Regions from separate parts of the Homo sapiens genome. Here region 2 is linked to region 1. Evidence: fine-mapped expression QTL. A gene starts in region 1. The other region holds a variant in brackets. All regions are shown on one strand. Distances are between the middles of the regions.

Evidence for each region.
Region 2: its variant is fine-mapped to the expression of FYB2 in skeletal muscle (GTEx, PIP above 0.99).

What each region holds. Positions count from the first base shown.
Region 1 is chr1:56,818,336-56,820,835 of GRCh38, forward strand. It overlaps FYB2 (FYN binding protein 2), which reads right to left and starts at 1,069. Exons shown (of 20, transcript NM_001004303.5): 1 at 947-1,069. The coding sequence starts at 955.
Region 2 is chr1:56,785,434-56,788,462 of GRCh38, forward strand. It overlaps FYB2 (FYN binding protein 2), which reads right to left. Exons shown (of 20, transcript NM_001004303.5): 4 at 1,742-1,775. Among named protein-coding and RNA genes, the nearest start is that of FYB2, 32 kb to the right of the region's middle. The variant C/T (reference allele first, on the strand shown) is at 1,388.

The sequences.
Region 1 (2,500 bases):
CAGCAAAAGCTAAAATGGATCCTCTGCCCTGATTTAAAACCAAACTTGTGGGTGAGAAGCCACATGATTCATGGGAGAAAATGACTTGACTCCAAATATATAATAAAAAGTATGGAAGCAACACACACACACACACACACACACACACACACACACACACACACATGCACACGCACATCAAAAGAAACTGACTTACTGAAGACGGAAATAGAGGAGAGTGGAGAATTGGAGAAGGAAAAAGGAAGATGTGGTCAGTCAGGCAAGACGTCTCCAACTGTGCCAACAGCACTCAGCCATCCAAGGGGCAGGGAATGCTGGCGTAGGGCAGGATACTTTTCCATACATCTCTATTTATACAAGCACCTCTGATAGTCTCACAAAGTAGTTATTGTACCAGTAATTCTCTTTCATGAGTGAGGGACCCAGGGCTCAGGATGACGGACACACTTGCCCCAGGCCACACAGTTAACAAGGAGCAGAACCCGGTCTAGAGCCACAAGCCACAAAAGAGCAATGCACAGCCGGCTTCCTAGCACCAAGCACTGCTCTCTGACCAGGAGGCCCGCTAATCACTGCAGAGGCCAGATACAGTCCACAAGGGCAAGTAAACACAGAGAGAAGCCAGCGGGCGCTTCAACGGAGGATCTGGGAATAGGTCAGGAGTCCAGCTGGCTGGGTAGAGCTAGGCCACATGCTGTCATTCCTCAGCACCTCCTGTCCCCTCACACTCCAGGTGGCACAGGACATGGCACACTCCTCTTCCCTCCCACCCGCCCTGAGCAAAGCCAGTGTGAGCAGAAATGCACTGGCTGACACCTGACATGTTTATTCCTGCCCAGGAGGCAGCACACACAAGCAGTTTTTCCCCAGGGCTCTCAAGTGGGAGGAACTTGTCCTGCAAGAAAAGACACACAGAAAGCCAGCAACAAAACTGAGACAGCCTTACCCCTTCCATTGCTTTCCTCCAAGGCAGAGTCAGGGAAACAAGCCCAGCCTCTCAGAGCTGGGTCCTGGGGCCAACAATCCGCTTTCCTCTGTCTCTGCTAGCCAGGGAGCAATCACTTCCCACAGGACACACCTGAGCCCAGGCTCCCCACCTGCCCCATCTGGGCCGAGGCTCCTCCCTTGCCTGGGGCTGGGCCAGGGCCGGCCGCCATCCTCCCAGCTTGGCTTAGACCAGCACCTGCAGGGGACTGGGGAGAGTACTCCACCTGCAGTCCTGCCAAGCCCACCTCTTCTCAGCAAGCGGCTCTTCCCGTTGCTCCCCTCCGGCTGGTCTGACAGTCACTCACTCTCCAGGGCATTTGTGCCCAGGCAGCAGGAGCTGTGAAGGAATGGGGATGGCAGGCTCCTGTTAGTACAGACCATGCAGGCTGGACAGTGTGATCCCCGTTAGTAACAACCTCTGCCAGCTCCGCCCCTGCAGACGGCTACTTAATTTCACAAACCCTTTCTCACGGTCAGGGAAACCAAAGCCCAGCAGGACAGCATGCCTAAGCCCACAGGGGGATTTAGTGGAGGCCAGAAAAGGAGTTAACATAAAGGAGCACCCTGTTTTTGGCCTGGTGTTTATTGAGGCATTTGGATTCCCATTTTAAAAGGTGAAGAATGGCCGGGTGCAGTGGCTCACACCTGCAATCCCAGCACTTTGGGAGGTCGAGGTGTGTGGATCACTTGAGGTCAGGAGTTTGAGACCAGCGTGGCCAACATGGTGAAACCCTGTCTCTACCAAAAATATAAAAAAAATTAGCCAGGTGTGGTAGTGGGTGCCTGTAATCCCAGCTACTTGGGAGGCTGAGGCAGGAGAATTGCTTGTACCTGGGAGGCAGACGTTGCAGTGAGCCGAGATCATGCCACTGCACTCCAGGGGGACAGAGTGAGACTCCGTCTCAAAAAAAAAAAAAAAAGTGAGGAAACTGAGTCTCAGAGAGATGGTAACACCTGCCCATGGTCACATAGGTAGTAACTAGAAGAGCCAGGGTTGGAACCCAGATCTGGCTGACTCTAAAGTGATTTTATTTTGCTGGGGTTATTTTTGTTTGTTTGTTTTTCTGACAGAGCTGGAGATGGAAACCCAAACCTCAGTTGCCAGTTTTGGGGCTTTCAGCTCTCCCGGGGTTGGGGATGGGCAGAGTGGGTGGCCTGCGCCCTGCTTTATGTGTAACCGGTGTGACTTTTCTTGCTTTGTCAAGTTCTTAGAAATCTTCTCCTGTCCTGACCAGGGAGAGGCGGGGTGGAGCACAGGTGAGGAGACCCCGCCTGAGGGCCATTTCCTCTAACAGGTGATTCCCAAACCTGGCTGATCACCAGAGCTGCCTGGGAATCTATCAAAAATACAGGATTCAAGTCCCAGACAAAACACTGCATCAATGCTTCTGGCCCAGGGACTGGCAGTTTGGGTTTTATAAAAGCCTTTGAGGTCTATGTATTTTAAACTTTATTAATGAATGACTCACAGTAAGATGTACCTTTTACATCCTTCCTCAACACACATACACAT
Region 2 (3,029 bases), 33 kb before region 1:
TTCTCTCTCTTTCACATAAATACGCATAGAACACGTCTCCACTGACCTGTCTTGTGCTGTCATTTAACTCTTTCAAAGGGATGACTAACCCAGGAGTTCCCAGAGCACATGAATTGCGTCTAACACCACACTACCAGTTCCTTGTTGAATAAGATTGTCTTATCAATTCCCTGTTGTACAAGATCCTCTGTGATGTGGTTCCTGTTTACCTCTATAATCCCGTTTCTATACCATTTCTATACTTTCTACACTCTAAGTGTACTTATTTCTAGTTTCCACAAATTAAACATGTTGCTTCACACCTCCTGCCTCTACCTAGAGTGTCCCTTCCCATGCTGTGCTGCAAATGTGCATCTTCAGTACTCATTTCAAATGTTTCCTCTTCGGGGATAGGTTGACTGGATCAATACCCCATTCTTCACTCCTTCCTGCATCCCTGCTTTTTGCCATGAAACTTTCAGCACCCTCCCACTCTGCTTCTGGGCTTGGCCATATTACTTGCTTGGACCAATAAGATGTCAGCAACTGCAACACAGTAAAGGCTTGAAAAGTACTGGTGTGATTGGGCTTGTCTTGCTTGTTAGCAGCGACTGTAGGAGAGTGCCCCTGGGCTAGCTTGCTGGATGAGGAGAGACAGATGGTGCCAAGTCAAGGTGCCCACCATCCCAGCCAACACAATCCTAGATCAGCCAACTGTTAAGCTTCCCCTCAACATGTGAGCCACCCCAGCCAATATTGCAAAGTTGCCTAGATAGCCTGCAGTCTACTGCAAACATATGAGCAAACCCAGCTGACCCCAGCCCAGATCAGCTGTACTCCACAGACTCATGTATGCTATGAAAGTTTTTTGGTTATTATGTAGCATTACTCTAGCAATGGAGAACTGATACTTCTTTAAAGACTTCCTTGACCCTCCCAAGAAGATGTAACAACTTCCTCCTTAGTGCAGCCTCTGAATCTTGTCCTTTCCTCTATTACAAAACTTAACACACTTTACCATTGTAAACATTTGATAAAGGAATAAGTAATATGATTATTTATTGTTAAGTTTGGATCTCCTTCTGAGACTAACCTTTTTGAGAACAGGAACATCTTTGTGTGGGAGGTGAGGTATATAATCAGTGTAGTTATGGCACATCTGGGTTGGAATCATGGCTCAGCAAGTGGCAAACTTTCTGAGCCCAAGTATCTTGAGCTGTAAAATGTGAGCGGCAGCAGCAACTGTGCAGCCCTCTTGAGAGAACAGAATGAGAAATCTGTATAAAGTAGCCAGTTGAGTGCCTGACACATCAAAGGTCTCAATAGATATTATTTGGTTAAGTGAGTTAAATGAACTGACACTTCTGTGGCAAAATTCTTAGAAGGAGTACACCAAAAATAGAACATC[C/T]TTTATCCTATTACCAATTCCTAACATCACACCAGCTGCCCAGAGCATTCTTTAGCCTCTAATTCAATTTATGACTATGAAGGGTGATGTTTCAATTTACTGAACCCAAGTGTGTAATAAAAAAAGGACCTCTGAGGACTATCTTTGCAACTTAACATCAGTACGTGTTAAATGCAATTTATTTAATCTTTTCTTTACAACAAAAGTTACACTTTGTTGCTTATAAGTTCACTGCTTCTGAAACCCTTCTGAGAAATACAGATTCTTGGTTTGTGCTAATTGCCTGCTCTGGAGCAGTCTAAGTAGCCTCTGTGGTGGGCTACGTTCCTACACAACTAAGGAGCATGTACTTACCTCTCTGGAGACAGGGAGCCCTCTTCCACAGTCACTGCAAGAGAAAGAGGCGGAATGAAAAAGAGGCATTTGCAGCAGCCTGGTTAAAGTGAATGATGCTTGTGTGATGACTTGATCCCACAGATAATGTGGAGAGTGGAAGCTTGCCTGTGCCTGAAACATCCCTTACCTCCACCCCAGCACCCAGGGGATGCCTGTCCCTGCATTGCAGCACTCACCCACACTTTACAGTACAATTTCTTATTTATGGGTACAATCTCTTGCATTAGACTTTGACCTCCTTAAAGACCAGAACCCCTGTGGGGTTTATCTCTTAATCTCTCATTTCCATCACAGGACATGGTACAGAGATTATAGCTGCTCAATGTTTGTTTCAAATAAACTTGGACATTTACAGAGCACTTCCTGGTATACCAAGCACTATTTAAGCCCTTTCCGGGCATCATGTCTCATTATCCTCACAATAATCCTAAGAGATCAGTGGTATCCCCATTTTACAGATAAGGAAATTATCCCTATTTTATAGATAAGGAAAATGAGGCTCAGTGATTAACAAACCCAAACTTAAATAGCTAGTGAGTTCAGAAGCTGGGATCTACAAAGCCCATTTTATGGCAAAAGACTTAGTACTTTGTTCTATGTTGCTGACAAACCTTCTTCTCATTCAGAGAGAATATTTGAGGCCTGAATTATTTAATGTTTATAAAAATCACACTTATCCTTCTTTGATTTGGAGCTGTCCATATCAGTAAAGTATACTTATAAGAGCCTATCTCCCCATATAGAATTTTCTTTTAGGATAAGACTTAAGATGACTTGTAGCAGTGGTTCTCAAAGTGTGGTCCATGGACCAGCAGCCTCAGCAACCTCTGGGAACTTGTTAAAAGGCAAATTATCAAGCTCCAACTCAGACCAACTGAACCAGAAACTGAGAATGGAGCCCAGCAATCTATGTTTTAAAAAGTCCTCTAGGTGATTCTGATGTACACTCAAGTTTGAGAATCATGAAGTCAGAGTAATTTAACCATGAAGTTGCCCAAAGCAGTTAAAATGAACAAAGACTGTGTTAGCTGTCTCAGTGTACCTGCCATCTGCTGGTGCTGATGGCCACAGTAAAACAAATGTTAGCACAGCAGTACATTTTGTCCCAAAGTGTATGTTCATCTTGTGTTTCATTAGAGCAAACATAAGCTAAGGCATTTAAAATGTCAACAAGATCAGATTGTGGTGGGAGTGGTGAGGGATGAGAGGTGTTCCTTTAAATAGAAGAAGACACAAAATAGCACAG